Linked DNA regions of Homo sapiens: all the other regions are reported to be linked to region 1. Evidence: microRNA targets listed by miRTarBase, many of them from high-throughput screens and not tested one by one. Region 1 holds a microRNA gene; each other region holds the end of a gene's coding sequence.
The links. Region 1 holds the annotated microRNA hsa-miR-4524a-3p (UGAGACAGGCUUAUGCUGCUAU, at 1,845-1,866, shown strand). A microRNA usually pairs through its seed, bases 2 to 8, with sites in the 3' UTR of a target mRNA and lowers its output. Matches are read on the target gene's strand: a 7mer-m8 pairs with bases 2 to 8, a 7mer-A1 pairs with bases 2 to 7 and ends in A, and an 8mer does both.

Region 1 (5,073 bases):
TTTAGTAAACATAGGGTTTTGCTATGTTGGCCAGGCTAGTCTCAAACTCCTAACCTCAAGTGATCTGCCCGCCTTGGCCTCCCAAAGTGCTAGAATTACAGGTGTGAGCCACCATGCCCAATCTTCCTTTGCTTCTTCATCATAAACTGACAGCATCTCCTTGTCAGGGAGACTTTTAAACTCTACTAAATGAAATTTCCCCATCAGCAAAATGGAGACAAAATTATCTAAAATTAGTAATACAAATAAAAATTCATATTGATTGTATGCTGACTCTGTGCTAGAGCTTAATGTACATGAATAGAGTGTCATTTAAGCCCTATAACAACCCATTTAGTATTTCCTTTTCATAGATGAGGAAGGTAAAGCTCAGAAAGTTTAGTTCACTTGAAGATGGACACACAACAAGCATGTGGCACTGTTAGGATCTTTTATACATAAACCTTGCCTTTGTTCTTTAAGAATTTAGCATTAACATTATTTATTTGTTTCTGTTTTAAGGATTATAGATTTTCAGTTGTGTGTAATACCAAGAGATTGCACTGTTTTCCAATTCTTATGAATATTATCAGCAATGGGCTACTTCAAATGTTTAATCACACACAACATATTCGAATTGAGTCAAGCCCATTTCCTCTTGTAAGTATTGGATTTACTGAGTCTAAACAATTAAGAATTGGACAAATAGCCTATGTTTTCTCTCTTTAGCTTTTAAATATCCATAAGTGATTGTTAAGCCTGAAAATTATTATTTTATCCTAATATTTTCAATGGGTTATAGCAAACAAAACAGGATTTTTTTTTCCTGCCAAGTTATCAGATAATTATCGTGAGGGAATACTTTTCAATATTTTGTCAGTCTTCTAGGCAATGTTTTGAAAAGTTGTACATACTTGATTGTGGAAGTGTATGAGAAAGAGAAACAGAAAAAAGAAAACACTGACTTGGAAATCAGGAGAACTTGTAACCCTGGTTACATATAAATCTATTATAATTAGTTAGTGGACCCTCCATTGACTAAATGTGTAGTAGACAGACTAATATGAAGGAGAATCTGCCAGTTCTGGGGCTATCTGTTGATTTATTTATTCACCTACTCATAGTTGCTCTATGTTGTGAGGGAGCCTAATACACACAGGCTGCATTGGATTCTGTGTCAGTTGGCTATAGTCTGGCTTCAGACAGTTTGGACACTAGAAAGCAGTGGTGGGAGACAGAAGAGCAGAGGACCCCCTACATTGGGCTCCAGTCACATCACCTCCTTCTGCTGTTCCTGAAGCCCAGAAGCAACAATAGCTTGCTTCTCACTTCACCATCTTTGTGGGATGCTCATCACCCACCTAACCATGTCATAAGGAATTGCACTCTAAGAACTTAACGTAGTCATGGTTTTCTGGTTAGACCCTGCCTGATACCAACAGGGGTGTCTCAAAGCTGACTCCAACTGTTTCACACCAGAAGTCTGAAACATCAAGAAGCAGGATTAGAAATGAAGCCATCCAAAGGGAAGTCCATTTTGTGACAAAAGTGTGAAGCTCAGTTTTGGCTTCACTGAATCAGTGGTGCTGGGAGTATATGCAAGCACAGGTTTTCTGTAAGCCATGGGAACAATGGGGATGAAATATACAGTACTTGAGATGTTCGTGACAGACACATACCTCCGTGAGTTGAGTATGACCGACTGATCACGTAAACAGGTCTGCTGCACAGGATGACTCGAGGGAAGGGGTGTCTGAAGGGAATTCTCCAGAAAGTGGAACCAGAGGAGTAGCAGAAAGAGACAGTGATTACCCTTCCTCTTTGGAACGATAGCAGCATGAACCTGTCTCACTGCAGAATTATTTTGAGACAGGCTTATGCTGCTATCCTTCAAAAGAACACATCCACCCAGCTACTGAGGTTTCCATCTCTGGGTTTGCTCAGAAAGACATGCTGCTCAGGCCTGAATTATGTGTTCATCAAAGGTCCTAACTTCTGAATTATTAGCTTCCTAATGCCATTGTGTTTGCTCAGGATCAAAATGGACTGAAGCCCATAGCTACTCTATTAGAAACCTGTTCCCCACTCCCACTTCCCCATGGCACACACCTTTCCTCCCTCATTCCTATGATGAAAAACAGAATTTATAGACATAGCCCTCAAAGTCTTAAATAAAGTTAAATAATTGTGGAATTATTTTGAGACAGGCTCATGCTGTTATCCTGTAATTATATCCATGAGGTGGTCCTAGATGCTGCTAGAGTGTCCACTTGGCCTAGCCTCAAGTGGATGCTGATTTGGGGGTAGTGATTTAAAGTTCCTTTCCCTGAAGTTAAGACAAGCAGCAACAAGTTTTCTTCTTGGTTCTGTGCTTCAGAACACATCCACCCAGCTACTGAGGTTTCCATCTCTGGGTTTGCTCAGAAAGACGTGCTACTCAGGCCTGAATTATATGTTCATCAGAGGTCCTAACTTCTGAATTATTGTTTTTTTGTTGTGGTAATAATACATGATATAAAATTGACCATTTTAGCTGTTTGCAAGTGTACAGTTGAGTAGTATTAAGTATATTCACATTGTTGTGAAATGCATCTCCAGAACTTTGCCGTCTTGCGGAATTGAAACTCGATGCCAATTAGCTTTCCCCCTCCCCCATCCCCTGGAAATAACCATCCTATTATGTTTCTATGAATATTACTAGTTTAGAAACCTTATATAAGTGGAATATTTGTCTTTTTGTAACTGGTTTATTTCACTTAGCATATTTTCCAGGTTCGTCTATGTTGTAGCATGTGACAGGATTTCCTTCTTTTTTTTTTTTTTTTTTTTTTGAGACCGAGTTTTGTTCTTGTTGCTCAGGCTGCAGTGCAATGGGGCGATCTCTGCTCACTGCAACCTCTGCCTCCCAGATTCAAGCGATTCTCCTGCCTCAGCCTCCCAAGTTGCTGGGATTACAGACATTTACCACCACACCTGGCTGATTTTGTATTTTTAGTAGAGATGGGGTTTCACCATGTTGGTCAGGCTGGTTCAGACTCCTGACCTCAAGTGATCCTTTTTAAGGTTGAATAGTATCCATTGTTTGTATATACATACACATTTTGTTAATCCATTAATTTGGACTTTTGGGTTGCTTCCACTTGTGAGTATTGTTGGTATGAATATGAATGTGAGGGTATCTCTTCGAGAGCTTGCTTTCAATTCTTTTGGAAATATCCCCAGAAGTAGGTCCTAAATGACTTTTGACTTCTCTTTGTTCTTTGAGTTGAAGATCAGAGTCACTTTCCCTCCCACCTTCGTGCCTAGATGGTAATGAGCTACACCTTTACTTTGATTTTTCAACATTTCAAAAAGTGCATTTTTGTGGCTATAATTATTTGTTTCATTTAACAAATATTCACTAGTTTAAGCTACCCTTTATATTTTCAGAGCCACATAGGACTCTGGACTGGGTTGCCGGATGGTTCCTTTTTCTTATTTTTGGTTCTATGTAGCATTTCTCCTTATATCACCATGGGCAGCATCAGTGATTACAAGGTAAGAAAAAGCAGGGAAAAGAAGAAATTTCAGGAATTTCAATATCTGTATTTTGAATGCTATGTGTTCAAAATGTTTTCTTCTGACAAAAACATTTGAATGTATGTTTAATTTAGATATTGTAGCTAAACCTTATTCTTGGCAAGTCAGATAATTTACTTCTAAAAACTCAAAATGCTTTTTATTCCAAAGTCACCTGAAAAGTACAGTGATTTTTCAGAGACTCCAATTAGTCTAAACCTTCAAAGGGAAATATTATAAATCTTTTGACCACATTATTTCCCAGCCACAAGAAGGAAATCATTGATGTTGAAATCAAAGGCCAAATTTAAGACTTGAATTCCTTTTCCACTCTGGAAATTGCAATTTTATGTTATATTTGTATTCGATTATGCCCATTATTCAGACAAAGCAGTTAAATCTATCAACGTTCACCATCCTGAGCCAGAAACTCTCCAAGATGTTTAGGTAAAGGTAAATGTATTATGTCCTCCAGGTCACAAAATAATACTTTTTTTTTTTTTTTTTTGAGATGGAGTCTCACTCTGTTGCCCAGGCTGGAGTGCAATGGTGCAAAATCGGTTCACTGCAAACTCCGCCTCCCGGGTTCAAGCAGTTCTTCTGCCTCAGCCTCCTGAGTAGATGGGATTACAGGCTTGCACCACCATGCCCAACTACTTTTTGTGTTTTTAGTCAAAATGGGCTTTCACCATGTTAGCCAGGATGGCCTCAATCCCCTGACCTTGTGATCCACCCGCCTTGGCCTCCCAAAGTGCTGGGATTACAGGCGTGAGCCACCATGCTGGCCAATACTTATTTTTATAGAGTTTAATGCCTTGAACATTATGAGGTCCACTTTTCATTATTCATGAGCTAAAGTTGTGTTATGAGTCAGGCCTATCACAGTATACATTTTATTTTTGATAGACACCTTGTAAACCATGGAACTGGCTCTATAAGCCTCATGTTACTAAGCAGTATATGCATAATTTTTTTTAATATTAGAAGATTAGATTATATTTATCTTAAAAATTCTTCCAATGTGTTTGTGTTTATTTTAGATTTGCATTTTAATTGAATCTATATACATTTCTTTCTTTCTTTTTTTTTTTAATCAGAAAAATGCTAAGTCCCAGCTATGGATTTCAGGCCTCTACACTTCTGCTTACTGGTGTGGGCAGGCACTAGTGGACGTCAGCTTCTTCATTTTAATTCTCCTTTTAATGTATTTAATTTTCTACATAGAAAACATGCAGTACCTTCTTATTACAAGCCAAATTGTGTTTGCTTTGGTAAGTAACACAGTACATAAACCAAATTTCATAAAGTAATTAATAATAAATTTTAACATTGTTATTTTAAGTAGTTAAGATGTTTTAATTCATATTTTGTAATAAACCAAAACAAAAAACATGCAAAGTGCATGTATGATAAATACTAATAGTTTCAGATACCAAAGATGTTTTATACTTATGCCAGGTTACTTGTTTTTTAAAAGTTGTAATCTAATTTTTCCCTCAGTAATATTTGATTTTTTGACTATGTTATTATTTCTTT
Region 2 (5,063 bases), not on the chromosome of region 1:
TCTAGGAAATCCAACAAAGATGTATGAAGTGGTCTACCAAATTGGAACTGAGACTCGTTCAGACTTCTATGACATCGTCTTGGTGGCCACTCCGTTGAATCGAAAAATGTCGAATATTACTTTTCTCAACTTTGATCCTCCAATTGAGGAATTCCATCAATATTATCAACATATAGTGACAACTTTAGTTAAGGGGGAATTGAATACATCTATCTTTAGCTCTAGACCCATAGATAAATTTGGCCTTAATACAGTTTTAACCACTGATAATTCAGATTTGTTCATTAACAGTATTGGGATTGTGCCCTCTGTGAGAGAAAAGGAAGATCCTGAGCCATCAACAGATGGAACATATGTTTGGAAGATCTTTTCCCAAGAAACTCTTACTAAAGCACAAATTTTAAAGCTCTTTCTGTCCTATGATTATGCTGTGAAGAAGCCATGGCTTGCATATCCTCACTATAAGCCCCCGGAGAAATGCCCCTCTATCATTCTCCATGATCGACTTTATTACCTCAATGGCATAGAGTGTGCAGCAAGTGCCATGGAGATGAGTGCCATTGCAGCCCACAACGCTGCACTCCTTGCCTATCACCGCTGGAACGGGCACACAGACATGATTGATCAGGATGGCTTATATGAGAAACTTAAAACTGAACTATGAAGTGACACACTCCTTTTTCCCCTCCTAGTTCCAAATGACTATCAGTGGCAAAAAAGAACAAAATCTGAGCAGAGATGATTTTGAACCAGATATTTTGCCATTATCATTGTTTAATAAAAGTAATCCCTGCTGGTCATAGGAAAACACACGGTTCTAATTAAGTGTGAAGGTATAGCTATTGCACTTATGCCATCTCCAAAATTTCTTAAGTATTCTTTCACTATCCATTAGGAGTTTTTCTTAAACTTGTCTGATAATAAGAATCACCTGGAGTTAGGAGGTGGTGGTTGCAGTGAGCCAATCTCACCATTGCACTTCAGCCTGAGCAACACGAGCAAAACTCCGTCTCAAAAGTAAATAAAAATAATCACCTGGAGTTTGTTAAACCATATGGATTCTCAAGCTCCTCTCTTGAAGATTCTGATTCAGTAGGTCTGGGAGTGGCGCGCTGGATTTTGATCAAAATTGTAGAGCATTTTAAGGTGAGTACCTGAGGGAGAACTTAAAGACATCTTAGTTGGGGAGTAGTCCTTTTGAATTTTACAGCTAGATATAATCTTCAGTCAGATAAAATTTATGGGAGCTGGTGTCTTATGCCTGACTCTTAGTAATTTCATACCGGTTTGAAGTACGTGTGCCCATGCCTAAAGCCTTGACTTTCAGAATGTTGTCTTTTGATTCTTCTGTCTTGATTTGATTAGGGGTGAAATTTAGAAGTCTTAGTAATGTAACTTGAAGATGTTAAACAAAAATCTCAAGTAAAATGAAAAGCAAATATGGGCTACTGAATTAAGAAACTGGCATTCTAGTATTAAATCCTCACTTCAGGAGCTTTTAAAAATACTGAGACCCCCCCATAACCAGAGATTCAGATTCAAAGACTGAGGATAGGACCTTAGCATTGTAGCTATTTAAAGTTTCTAATGTGCACCCAGGGTTGGGAATCACCAATGTGGGTGTGAAAATGCCTACAAAGGGTTTTAGTGCCTTAGAAGTCCTAAGAAGCCCAATCTGTATCAAAGCAGATCCATTTTGCAAGGATCTTTCTTTTAGAACTTTCTCAGTTCTCTTAGTAAGAACTTTAGAAGTAATCTTGATAATAAGCACAGACAGCCTAACAGCAGAGGCAACTTAAATAACTCCTGAGCAGTTGGCACTAGAACAGAATACTTGGAATGACACCAAAGTTAACCAAGTCCAGCATATGTCCAAAGAGTTAAGTGTTTCATTTACTGTAGCATTCTGGGTGAGAAATTGGTTGCTGAAATCTTAAGACAGTGGTCTCAACCTTGGCTGCACATTGGAATCACCTGTAGGGTTTTAAAGCATCCAAATGGTAATTAACAGGCAGCAAAACTTCAGAACTAGTTCTGCATCTACTGTGCAAAGATCATGATTAACTGTCAAGACACTGGTAGAACAGAACAAGCAAAAGATTAAGAGTTCAAAAGTAAATGCAACCAATTTAACATGTAGTGTTATTAAAAAATTACAAAGGCCTAGACCAGCCTGGGCAACATGGTGAAACCCCATCTCTACAAAAAATTTTTAAAAAGTTGGCCAGGCATGGTAATGCGCGCCTGTGGTCCCAGCTGCTCGGGAGGCTGAGGTGGGAGGATCACTTGAGCCTTGGAGGTCAAGGCTGCAGTGAATCATGATCATGCCACTGTACTCCAGCCTGGGCAACAGAGACCATCTTAAAAAAAAAAAATCCTTCCATTGAATAGAAACTTCAAAGTCCTTCATCAGATCATGGCATTAGCTACTTTAGCAAAATAGTGTAAACTTTGGTTCTGAGTAAAAATGACTTCTTCCCTACCACAGTTGTGAATGTTAATATGCTGATAAAACTGCCAAGATATATTTGATAGGTAGGGGATTAAACTCATGGTTTGTCAAAAGAGTGTTTTTTTCTAGTTTTATTCTTAACAGATATGTTGAGGTATTCATATTTGTTTCCTTTTGTGGTTTTAATGAAGACAATTTGTAAAGTAATACTGTTATGTATATGCTAAATGTTGGTAAATACTAATTAATTTCCATCATTTGTAGACTTGTTTTGCAATGGGATATATTTTTACTTATAATACCAATTTAGGCTGGGCGCAGTGGCTCACGCCTGTAATCCCAGCACTTTGGGAGGCCAAGGCAAACGGATCACGAGGTCAGGAGATCAAGACCATCCTGGCCAACATGGTGAAACCCCATCTCTACTGAATACACAAAAATTGGCTGGACATGGTGGCGCATGTCTGTAATCCCAGCTACTGTAATCTCAGCTACTTGGGAGGCTGAGGCAGGAGAATTGCCTCAACCGGGAGGCGGAGGTTGCAGTGAGCCAAGATCGCACCACTGCACTCCAGCCTGGCAACAGAGCGAGACTCTGTCTCAGAAAAAAAAAACAAAAACCAGTTTAGGCTGGGTATGGTGGCTCACCAGCACTTTGGGAGGCTGAGGCAGGTGGATCTCTTGAGGTCGGGAGTTTGAGACCAGCCTGGCCAACATGGTGAAACCCTGTCTTTACTAAAAATACAAAAATTAGCCAGGCATGGTGGCGTGTGCCAGTAATCCCAGCTACTTGGGAGGCTGAGGCGCGAGAATCGCTTGAACCCTGGAGATGGAGGTTGCAGTGAGCAGAGATCGCACCACTGCACTCCAGCCTGGGCAAGAGTGAGACTGTGTCTCAAAAGGAAAAAAAAAAAATTAAAAATGTTGCTGGTATTACATCAAACCTACTCTGGATAAATTTTCCAGTAGGGCATCTGAAATTGCTTTGGCAAAAGCAAAACAGGTTATCAATACACCAAGGACATCAAGTAGTTTTAATGCAACTACAGTGTTGAGTGCTTTTTTACTGGGAGAAAAATCCTAGCAGAACCTGCTACTCTGGGCGCATTAGGTAGTTTTATGCAACTATAGTATTAAGAGTTTTATTGGAAGAAAAAACACTGTCAGAGCTTACTGCTCCAGACCTTTTTTTTTAATAGAAGAGACTGGTAAAAATGATGCAGGGGCTGAATGAAAGCCAGCTCTGCTCCAGTGGCTCTCTGAGTTGAGCATGCATCAGTTACCTTAAGGGCTTGTTAAAACATCGCTAGGCTCCACCCTGTTTATTCAATAAGTTTGTTATGGGATATAAGAAGATGCATTTTATTAAGTTCCCCAGTGATGCTGCTGTTCTACTATAGGAACCACACTTGAAGAACTAGTTCTACAATTCAGCTGTATGTTGTAAAGGAGTCAAGTCAATGAAGGAGTTATAAAGAGTTGCTGAAAAATGGAGTAACAGTGTATGGGACTTCACATCAGTTCTCCTTATTGATTGTTAGTTTGATCCCTCTTGTTCTTTTGTTGTAAACATTTTCTATAATTAGGAAATGCCATTTAAGAGTGAGAGAGGTATATATCTATGAGCCATTGTGTTTGGTGTTTTACAAGAACTTTACCATACTGGTGTGTAGTCCATTCTGTACAGTTTAAAAGTGATTCACGATTTGCAGGCTTTTTATCAGATCACAAAAAAATCAGTCTTTAAGCATTTGCTTGGTAAGGTTTCTTAAGATTAGGTTTATAATACAACCATCTGTAATGTATCTCTCGTTTGAGCTTGTGGGCCATACAATTCATTAACTAGATGAATACATTGTGGACAGCATCCTCACTACCCCTCTCTACTCACTCACAAAGAACCATGATACACTGGAATGTTTTTCTCTGGAATCCTCTTTCTACTCTTGTATTAAAATTTTTCCCCACTTCATGATTATATTCAAAATAAACAACTACATCATTACTTCTTGTCTTTTGCTTCTGTTGTACTATATTTGGAATGTAGATGTACTTGGGAAAGTCAGGCTAGATCAAAGTTACTATTCTTACAAGTTTTGAAAATTAGTGTTTTAGAAGAAACTCACTCATGTTTGTAACTTCTTTATCTGTTCAGTGTTGAAAGATGATGGACAGAAGGAATCCTTGCCATGTTTCACATTTAATAAGATTCTTTCACTTTAATGCATAAAACCCTTTGAAATCAATGTCAACCAGGAAAATTCATGTTAGAAAAAACTGGAATGAGAGCTGATATTCTATATTCAGAACATCTGAGAAAGCATTTTTGACTATTACAAAAGTTTATTTAACAAAAAGTCTAATATGAAAATGTACATGACCTAATTTTTACATCATAGTAAAACAGGCCCTATGGAGAGAGGACATGGGTTTCTCTGCTGAACAGCCATTATTTATACTCGTTCCAAGGCTTCTAACATGATGATACTATTTCCTCGTATTACCTAAGAAAGAGAAAAATAAATTTGAAAAGAACAACTCAGGTAACAGACATAACTATGATGATTTAAGAATTTTCACCAAATCATTAATGGTTTTTTAATATTACATG
Region 3 (5,063 bases), not on the chromosome of region 1:
GACCATGCTTTGAGTAGCAAGGCCCTAAAGCTGCACTGTCCTATCTGGTCGCTGCTAGTCACCTGCAGCAATTTAACTTAGCAAGGAGAATGAAATAAAAGGAACAATTCAGTGCCTCAGTCGCATGGGCCACATTTCAAGTGATGAGCAGCCCATGTGGCCAGTGGCTGGTGTGTTGGACTGTGCAGGTGTACAGCACGTTCATCGCAGGAAGTTCTTGGAGGGTGGGCATGGTGCCTCACGCCTGTAATCCAAGTGCTTTGGGAGGCCGAGTCACGAGGATCTCCTGATCCCAGGAGTTTGAGACCAGCCTGGGCAGCATAGTGAGAGCCCCGTCTCTATACAAGAAAAGAAAGTTCTCGAGGATGGCGCTGCCCTGAGGTTTGGAGTAGGAGTTAACCAGACAGCTGGGGGAGGAGAGAATGGGCTTCTGCCTCAGGCTCAGCGCACACGAAGGCCACTGCAAGAGCTAGGAGGAGGACCATGGAATTTGAGTGCAAAGAGTAAGGAGGGAGTGAGACTGGAGACAGGGCCGGGGACTCCCTGGGCTGTGGCGGCCTTAGGGCCATGCAAGGGCCTCAGGCCAGGGGAGCCCCTGATGGGTCTGTGGCAGGCTGGGCTCCATCTGGGGAGATGGGAGTGTGGGGAATTCGGTAGTGCTTTTCTCTTCATGGCGTCACTTGCTTTTCCCTTTGCATCGGCCTGGGGCCCTGGGGCCTGATTTGCAGCATCAACAGCTTTTCCACTGCTGTGTGTCAGCCCAAGGGCCTTGTCACTGTGAGAGGGTAACGTGTGCCACGCCCTTCCTCCCCAGGGGCTCCATGTCCAGCCTGGAATCCTGCACCAGCGGCTTCTCCCAGCTCAGCGCCGCCACCTCGTCCTCCTCCTCCGGCCAGTCTCATAGCAGCTCCCTGGTCTCCAGATAGCCGGGCCCAGTGTTTCAGGGCCGCCCGCTCGCCTCCAGTGTCCAGAAATGTCCAGAATGAGAAGCCAGCTAACTGCAGGGCCTGGGACCATGTGGGCTGGAGCCCCAGGCCTAGATGCTGCCCAAGTTGGGGTGTCTGGAGCGGATGGCAAGGATCCAGAACTGGCCTGTGGGTGGTGTCAGGGCTCTTGAAATTGCAAGGACAGAACCATCTCCTTCCGGCTTCGTGTAAGGAAGACCAAGCCAAGGCCAAGGTGTCTACCATACCACACCTTTGGGACATCCGGGCTTAGCGACGTCAGCCAGGCCCATCTCCTCTCTGTCCACCTCTTGCTCTGCTTTCGCCATGCAGGGGACCATCACTATCAGGTGCCCTTCTCCTCCCTGCAGCTTGCCTGCATAAGAGAGCCTCTTCCTCCCAAAGGCTCCAGCCCACTTCCCAGAGCTGAGTCTTAGCCTGGAAGGGGGAGCGATTGCCAGGTCAATTCCTGAACCAATCACAGTTGCCAGGCACACTGGAGAATGCTGATTGGCCAGCAGGGTCATGCCCAATCTGGACCAATCACCGTGATCCAGGGTTGCAGTGAGGTGCAGTGATTGGCCAGCCTGGATCACATGCACATCTCTGGAACCAACCACCTGCTCTCAAAAGCACTAGTGGGTGCCTCGAGGAGTACTGGGGTCCCCCCTAAGAAGAAGGAGGAAGGATGCTGGGGAGGCAGAAATGAAGGGTGTTTACCTTGGCATCTGATTGCATAACGTTCTGTTATGCAGTATCAAGATGTGCTTGGTGAGCAGTTAAGTGAGTTACAGGCGCTGCTCTTTGTGGGGAACAGCACATCCTGAAGTGAAAATCCATGTTCCCTGCACTTGGCCAGCATGGCCTAAGCCTGACCATCCCTGATTGGAGAGGGTGGGAGAGCCCTGGGTTTCTGCTAAGTTCCAGGCAGTGATGGGGTGACTGAGGCTGTCTGTATACCCCACTGGAGATGCCTTTCTCTCCTAGGGAACTGTTTAATTATGACTGTTTTTGGTTGTAAGCCACAGAGACCCATGCCCAGGTGCTTCAACACAAAAGCATGATCATTCATGGGTGCATAGAACTGGCCAGTCCAGGAGGGCTTGCTTCAGGTAAGGCTAGATCCAGGGTCTCAACATGGAGTCTCGATTCCCCCCGCGAGTGGAGGCTGCTGTGTTTGCCCTGGGGCAGATATGACTCTGGAACTAGGTTCAATATTGACATGAGTTCCCCTAGTTACTACACAGGAGCGTCTTGGGTCTCCTTGGGGCCTGAGGACATTTCTCCTTTCCTTTCCTGGACTCCCCAAAAGGCAGCCAGTCAGGGGTCACCAACTTGAAGCCTGATCTGGCCTGCTTTTAGTGTTGCTTTTTTGCCTTTAGAATGGTTTAAAAATTGAGGCATTTCGCATCGAAATCAGGATTTCTGGCTTCCCTTAGGCATTTGGGAGCACCAGCAGAATGGGGTCACTATTGTTGCATGAAGACAACACCTCTGCACCCCTGGATGTGGCCACGCCAGTCCCTACCCCATTGACTTGCGCCCAGCCCACATTACACATCCTCATGACCTGCGTGGCAGGAGTCTCACTGACATGGCTCTGTCAGCAGTGGCTGGTACCCTTGTCTCCTGGCCTTGCTTAGAGTTGGGGCTCATCTCTGCTGCAGTAACTGAGCCAAGGGGTGGTTTTGTGGCCACAAGAATCATCTTTATGCAGGCTCAGCAATGCAGGGCCAGGAAACTTATATCTACGCCAGCCTCAACCCCAAACCCAAGGAAGAGAGAAAGTGTCATCTTTTCAGATACATCCTTCTTCCTGCTGGGAGAGAGCCTTGCCCACCTTCCTGTTGGCTCTCTGTCCGCTTCTCAGGTATCTGAACAAAATAGATTGCTTTGCACTCTGCGTCAAGGTGTGTGTGCACATGTGTGCATAAGAGACCGACTGATTGGAAGGAGACGTTCTCAAAACTAATTGCTCCCATATCACCAGGCATTTATTGCTGAGAGCAACTTGCAATATTTTCAACTATCTTTAAGTGAATTTCTAGCTTTTCTCTTAAAAACTAGGTGTTATCCTACAAGTATGCTGGGATAAGCTGCCCTGGCAGTCTTTATACATTTATTGTCTAGCCCCAGAGAAGGACACAGAAGCCTTTTACGGAAGGAAGCTGGAACTGCCTGTTCCAGAGGCGGGTGGGGGGAGGGGAGTCTGCTATCAGCTGTCCACCCTTAACAGTGGGGGTGAGGAACCTCAGGCCCTTTCAGTTCTGCTCTTGAGAGTGCTCTCTCCCTAGGGAAAACCAGCCCAAACTGGCTTAAGCAACAAAGCAAATTCCCTGGGTCCTGTACTAGGGATGGCTGAAGGTGGGTGCTGCTTCAGATATGGCTGGATCCAGGAGCTTAATGTCCTCAGGCCTCTCAACTGCACCCAGGCCTCTTGACTCTGCATCTCTTTGCATGCTGACCTCATTCTTTCTTCCACCTGGCGGGAAAGATGGCTGCCAGCAGCCCCAAGCCTATAATTTCAGGATTCACACTCTAAGAGATGCTTTTCCATCTCAAATCTCATGGAAGGCTCTGATTGGCCCAGCTCGAGTCACATGCTTATTCCTGTGGGCCACACTGGCAAGGAACTAGGGTCCCGTGATTGACATTCCCTGCAGAAGCCGCAGCAGGATTGGGGAGGGCCATTCCCCCAATGGACAAGAGAAGCTGGACCACAGAACCAGCAGGTATCCATGGTGGCATCTGCTACGGCCGGCTCTCCTCCCATGTGGAGGTCTCGGGGACCCACGTGGAAGCATTATCAAGGTCATTCTTCTTGCCTTCGGGAGGACTGGAATTAAAAATAATCCAAGGAAGGGATTGCCAAGCTTTTGGCTTTTGAATTTCCCCTGAGCCACAAAGGCTGGAAGTGCCTTGGCTTGGGCTTCTTGCATCATTAGTTCATTAATCCATTGTGACCAGGACAGAAGCAACCCACAAGCAGCATTACTGTTGGTGTTTGGGCACCTGGGCCTTGAATTTAGGCCAGGACTCAAACCCCAGCCTTCCTTTCACTAGCTGTGTAACCTTGACCAGGTGACTTAACCTCTCTGTGCCTCAGTTTCCTCATCTGTAAAGTGAGGATAGCAGTGCCTACCTCAATAGGTTGTAGTGGGACGAAATGAGGGAGTAGCTGTAAAGCTTTCAGCACAGCTCCCAGAACACAGAAAGCGCTCCATTAATGTCAGTGGTCATTCTGATTACTTAATGCTTCGCATCCAAAGACTCGTTTTCTTCCTGAGGTCGCCTATCCCTGTTTTTCGTTATTGCACCCAGAGAAAAGTAGGTGTCAAGAATTATTGCCCTCTGAGTTGGGTGTGCAGTCTTTCTCTTTTAGAAACTGCTTGTGTGGGCGGGGCGTGGTGGCTCATGCCTATAATCCCAACACTTTGGGAGGCTGAGGCCGGCTGATCGCTTGAGTGCAGGAGTTCAAGACCAGCCTGGGCAACATAGTGAGACCCTGTCTCTACAAAAAATTAAAAAATGAGCCAGGCGTGGTGGTGCGTGCCTATAGTCTCAGCTGCTCGGGAGGCTGAGGCAGAAGGATTGCTTGGAGGTCAAGGCTGGAGTGAGCCATGATCTCACCCCTGTACTTCATCCTGGGTGACAAAGCAAGACCCTGTCTCAAAAAAAGAAGAAAGAAGCTGCTTGTGTTTTCTGGGTAAGTCCACCCATCTGAGGGAGTGTATTCTGAGTGGTATTTCCCTTGGCAGTTAGAAAATGTTTTTTCCCAGAGGTTGAAGTATGGAGAGTTTGAGACTCTTTTTTTCTACCCTGCACTCTCTGGAATTCCCCCTCCCTGCTGTAAAATTTATTGTCCAATGAGAATAGTATAATTGTTTTCAACAAAGTCTCTTTGAGCCAGTGAAACACGATGGGTTTTTTTGTTTGCCTGATCACTTGCTCCAACCAGCAGCATTAAATGTTTTCCATTTGGATAAACTTGCATCGTCAGCTTCCTAAAACCCTGGAGGTTTCCCGTGGGCTCGTTCAAGAACTTTCCAGCTGTTGTTTAAAAGACTTTAGAGCTAGCTTGTTCAGCCTGTGGCCTGCAGGCTGCACGCGGCCCCGGAC
Region 4 (5,063 bases), not on the chromosome of region 1:
CACACTGCATTTAGTTGTCACGTCTCCCCAGGCTTCTCTTGGCTATGAAGGACCCTCCTTGTCTGTGATGACCTTAGGTCGGCAGTGTTAGGGAGCGCTGCTTGGGGTATACTGTAGCATGCTGAGCGGGGCTGAGGCTCGGATGAGGGGAGCTCAGTCTGACCAGGCTCTGGAAGGAGCCGTCGCGCTGGAGCCAGAACCTGGCTTCCTGGGCCTGAGCCCCCTCACACAGGGACAGCGCCTCTGCTCAGTGTGCCCTCCCATTCCCTCGCAGGCAAGGGGATCAGGCGAGTGAAGCCGAAGCGCACCACATCCTTCTTCAGCCGGCAGCTGTCCTTGGGCCAGGGGAGCTACACCGTGGTGCAGCCCGGCGACAGCCTGGAGCAGGGCTGAGGACGCTGCACCCGGCAGGAGGAGGGCGACTGGGGGCCCTGGCCCGGCACTGTCCTCCTGAGGGGCAGGCGCCGGCTGCAACAGTCTCATGGGTCACCACGTGGGGAGGGCTGCCTCAGCAGGTTTCTCAGACCACGGAGAAGTGACTTTTGGGCCCGGGGCCATGCCCGGGCTGTGCAAAGCTGGCCAGGGCCTCCTGTAGGGCTCCTCTGCAGCCTGCCCTCCCTTCCCCCGGATGCTGGGCCCTGCTGCTCTCTCAGGACCATCCGATCAAGCTGCAGCTGCCACCCTCACCTAGAAACATGCCTTTGTGCCCACCTCAAGATGGGCAGTGTCCCTGTTCTGAAGTGCCCAGTGGCAGCTCCAGTGGTAGAGGACCAAGGATTGAGGTTTGGGACCTGAAGCTCCAGTGTGTGCCTTTGGCCTCTTCCCTGGACTTGGGTGACCAGTCTCCGTCTTCCTCCTGCTAGTGCTCCACCCCCCGGACTTGGATGACCAGTTTCCCACCTTCCTCCTGCTGGTGCTCCATCCCCCAATACCAGGCTGGGCCACCACTCTGAGGAGGGTAGGAGGGGCCTCCCTGGATTGAACCGGGACAGAAACACGGTGAGGGCCCCCACCACACCTCCCTGGTTGAATCAGGAATGGAGGGAGCCAGGCAGGGCCCTACCTGGGGTCCTGTGCCCCTCGTTCTGGTCTCCTTTGCAGGCACGAGATACCAGAAAGAGCATGCCTTTCTGATAGCCTTTGGTGATGTCACTGCTGGGAGGTGGCTATCCTGTGGACCACCTGGCCTCCAGACCCACACTCACAGTCTGTGAAAAACTGAAAATCCCCTGGTGGGCACTCCCTGGAGCCCAAGCAGCTCCCCTAGGGGACTGACCGGACCTGACCTCCCCTCCCTGTGTCTGGGTCTTCAGGTTTTAGTTTGGTCTTTGTTCATCTGAGTTGTGCTGGGGCAACGCCAGGAAGTGCCCTGGGTACCTCTGCTGTGCGCTCCTTCCCAGGTGGCGCCATGGATTCCTCTGGGGGCTGGCGCATGCCCAGGAAAGCCTGGGCCACACGGGACACTCTCTTCTTTATCGAGGACACTTGGAAAGGTGACTGATATGGGTGCTTGGCTTCTCTGGTCCCAGCTTGCCCTCCGGGGAGCAGGGGCTCTGTCTTGTCCCAGATGAGCTGAGAGCCCCTGAGAGGAGGGCTTTCCCAGCCCTGGGACCCTCCGAGGTGGGTGTGCGGGTCTCACAGGTGCTTCCTGGGACTTCCTGTGGCTGCACAGGGCTTGGCTTTGTCTTCGTTCCCGGTGGAAAACCGTGGGAGAGGAAGCTTGGGCCTCTACTCCAAGTATCAGAGCCTGTTCACCCTCCTCCCTTTGGTAGCTTGTGAATGTGCCAGGTGTTTCGAGGTAGGCTTGCCTTCTGGCAGCATGGACTTTGTTAAAATAATAGGCGGAAAGAAGAGGCCTGGGAAGGGCCCCCAGTCTTTTGGAATGTCCTGGTCACAGGGTCATGTCAGCTGCCAGTTCTCGTCTCCCGTCCTGGAGTTGCTCGGTCTTGCGGAGCTGCCCGCCTGCCTGTTCTGGCGGCTCCAGCGCAGGCTGTCCCTGCTGCTTTGATTCCAGGTGATTTTATTTTTTTTATTTTTTTATTTTTTTTGAGACGGAGTCTTGCTCTGTTGCCCAGGCAGGAGTGCAGTGGCGCATCTCGGCTCACTGCAACCTCTGTCTCAAGCGATTCTCCTGCCTCAGCCTCCTGAGTAGCTGGGATTACAGGTGCATGCCACCAGGCCCCGCTGATTTTTGTATTTTTAGTAGAGATAGGGTTTCACCATGTTGGTCAGGCTGGTCGTGAACTCCTGACCTCATGATCTGCCCGCCTCAACCTCCCAAAGTGCTGGGATTATAGGCGTGAGCCACCGCCCCCAGCTGATTCCAGGCGAATTCTTCTCTGATGGGCGGGCGAGGGTGTGTTCGTGTGATGGGTTGGAGTGTGTGTGTCTGAGTACACAGATGATGTGTTTTCCCTTCAGCTTCTTACGTTTTCTGAGCATCCATTGTGCCTTAACATTTTCTGCTTGTCCTTTGGGACAAAGCAGTATTTTACTCATTCTTTGAATGTTCTCATTCTTTTGTATCATGTGACTTATTAAAATCAGTTTCTAACAAACTCTGGGGCAGCTCATGATATGAAATAATGAGGGTGTGTCCGTGACAGTCCAAGAGTTGATTACAGGCTGCATGTTTGGTTTTCATGAAACGTACGTCAAGGTGTGCAGCCCTCAGGCCAGCCAGGTTGATGCCCACGGAGCACCCGAGTGAAGCTGTCTCATCTTGGCGGCTTGTACTCCCAGCCCCACGTTGCCCAGGAGGGGCTCTGGGGTTCCTGTGGGGACCAAGGTGGGTAACTGCAGATGCTCATGCCCTTCCTGAGGGCACCTCATGCTCCAGGCCTGGCAGGAGGCCGTTTGTTTCCCACAGATCCTGCTGTCAACACCTACCTGGGAGGGAAGGGACAGTAGCAGACCCCTGGAGGACTCTGAGCCCTGCAGCAGCCACCCAGGACCTGGGCCTGCAGGATGAGCGCCACTGGGGGATTGGGGTTCACAATGTTTCCAGAGATGGGAGGAGTAAGCCACCTGTCCCTGTGGCAGCGTAGTCCTGGGAACAGGGCCGTCTCCTTGGGTGTCCATGACAGTGAGTGGCACCTTGTCCTCTGTGTGATCATCTTTGCCTGGCAAGGCAGCACAATGCCATGACCATGGGCACCTGTGACCTTTCGTGGGAATAACAGTGCCCAGGCCAGGCACAGTGGCTTGCTACTGTAATCCCAGCACTTTGGGAGGCCAAGGCGGGAGGGTCACTTGAGCCTAGCCTGGGCAACATGGCGAAACCCCATTGCTACAAAAACAAAAAAAATTAGCCAGGCATGGTGGCACAAGCCTGTCGTGCCCAGCTGCTTGGGAAGCTGAGACTAGAGGATCGCCTGGGCCCAGGAGGTCGAGGATACAGCGAGCTGTGTTCACACCACTGTGCACTCCAGCCTGGGCAACAGAGCAAGACCCTGTCTCGAAAAAAAAAAAAAAATTCCGAAAAAACAACTCACTTCGGCCAGGTGCAGTGGCTCACGCCTGTAAACCCAGCACTTTGGGAGGCCAAGGCGGGCGGATAACCTGAGGTCGGGAGTTTGAGACCAGCCTGACCAACGTGGAGAAGCCCTGTCTCTACTAAAAATACAATATTAGCTAGGCATGGTGGCGCATGCGTGTAATCCCAGCTACTGGGGAGGCTGAGGCAGGAGAATCGCTTGAACCCGGGAGGCGGAGGTTGCAGTGAGCCGAGATCGTGCCATTGCACTCCAGCCTGGGTGACAGAGCAAAACTCTGTCTCAAAAAAAAAAAAAAAGTAAACTGATTGTCTCACAGTTCTGGGGGCTACAAGTCCAAAATCCAGGTTTCAGCTCAGCAGGGCCGTGCTCCCTCTGCAACCCATAGGAGAGGCCTTCCTTGCCTGCTCCTAGCTTCTGGTGCCTTGCTGGCCGTTCAGGCATTCATTGGCTTGCGGCTGCACAGCCAGTCTCTGCCTATGTGGTCATCTGGCATCTTCCTTAGTGTCTGTGTCTTCACATGGCTGTGTTCTTACAAAGACACCAGTCAGATTAGACTAGGGGCCCACCCTACTCCACCATGAGCTCATCTTAACTAATAACACCTGCAATGATCCTGTTCCCACATCATGTCACATTCTGATGCACTGAGGGTTAGGACTTCGACATATCCTTTTGGGGGAACACGATTTAACCCTTACCACTACCCTACAGATGATTGTCTTGGACTTCTTTGGGGTTCTTTAATGCCGGAACAGCTGTTATTTTCAAATCCTAGCTACGCTTGGGTTGCACGGGGCAGCAGGAGTGACTTTGCCACCTGCCAGCCTGGCACGCACAGCCTGGCTCAGCCAGCACCTGGATCCAGAGGCCTGAAGACCTGAAGAGGCTCTGCCCAGACTGCCCCTGAGGACAGTGCAGTGGGACGAGGTCTTCACAGTCCCCAGTCCCCAGACTCTCCCTAACTCTTCAGAATGCAGGAAGCAGAGGTGACCAGAACAGTCAACACATGCGATCCTACTGTCCCTTCTGAGGCTGGGGTTTCCAGGTCATTCTCCACTTACAGCAGCAGCTGGGGCATTCCTGCGGGCTTCCCAACCCGGGGCTAGCTGGACACAGGAGGCTCCAGCCACAACCAGAGCCCAGCAAGAGGCTTGCGCAGACCCACAGCTGAGGCTTCATGTGGCCAGCCCCCAGCCAAGTGGCAGTGCATGGAGAGACACACGGGAGGCCAGAGGTGCTGCTGGGACTCAGAAAAGCCACAGCGACCAAGGCGACCCAGGACGCTGTCATGCTCAGTCTGAAAAAACAGTGGTGCAAGGGGCACAGATAAAGCTGGGAAGGAGAGGGCTGGGGTGGATGTGCCAGGGGCCTCTGACACTTGTCAGGGAGCAGGAGTTCCAACTGCTCCCCGCACACAGGGTTGCAGGATTAGCAACAGAGTTACCCATGGAGACATCAGCTCAGAGTCCAGGCAGCTTTTCAGATGACACCGGGGATAAGAACATAAAGACCAGGAAAATGGGTCACTTTGCACACACATGATGCCCCAACAGATGTGCAGGCCAC

Region 2: miRTarBase lists PCYOX1 as a target of hsa-miR-4524a-3p. Seed matches in the 3' UTR shown: 8mer at 3,048-3,055 and 7mer-A1 at 3,344-3,350.
Region 3: miRTarBase lists SEC14L5 as a target of hsa-miR-4524a-3p. Seed matches in the 3' UTR shown: 7mer-m8 at 4,450-4,456 and 8mer at 4,609-4,616.
Region 4: the mRNA of FRMD8 is a reported target of hsa-miR-4524a-3p. Seed matches in the 3' UTR shown: 8mer at 2,114-2,121.

Annotation. Positions count from the first base shown.
Region 1 is chr17:69,096,363-69,101,435 of GRCh38, reverse strand. MIR4524A (microRNA 4524a) reads left to right here and starts at 1,804; the gene lies at 1,804-1,872. ABCA6 (ATP binding cassette subfamily A member 6) reads left to right here. Exons shown (of 39, transcript NM_080284.3): 22 at 502-639; 23 at 3,409-3,516; 24 at 4,635-4,808. It overlaps MIR4524B (microRNA 4524b), which reads right to left and starts at 1,894; the gene lies at 1,780-1,894.
Region 2 is chr2:70,276,729-70,281,791 of GRCh38, forward strand. It overlaps PCYOX1 (prenylcysteine oxidase 1), which reads left to right. Exons shown (of 6, transcript NM_016297.4): 6 at 6-4,457. The coding sequence ends at 664. It overlaps SNRPG (small nuclear ribonucleoprotein polypeptide G), which reads right to left. Exons shown (of 4, transcript NM_003096.4): 4 at 4,634-4,956. The coding sequence ends at 4,906. Among named protein-coding and RNA genes, the nearest start is that of SNRPG, 14 kb to the right of the region's middle.
Region 3 is chr16:5,014,045-5,019,107 of GRCh38, forward strand. It overlaps SEC14L5 (SEC14 like lipid binding 5), which reads left to right. Exons shown (of 16, transcript NM_014692.2): 16 at 815-5,063. The coding sequence ends at 926. Among named protein-coding and RNA genes, the nearest start is that of NAGPA-AS1, 17 kb to the right of the region's middle.
Region 4 is chr11:65,410,968-65,416,030 of GRCh38, forward strand. It overlaps FRMD8 (FERM domain containing 8), which reads left to right. Exons shown (of 11, transcript NM_031904.5): 11 at 275-2,558. The coding sequence ends at 393. Among named protein-coding and RNA genes, the nearest start is that of NEAT1, 9.3 kb to the right of the region's middle.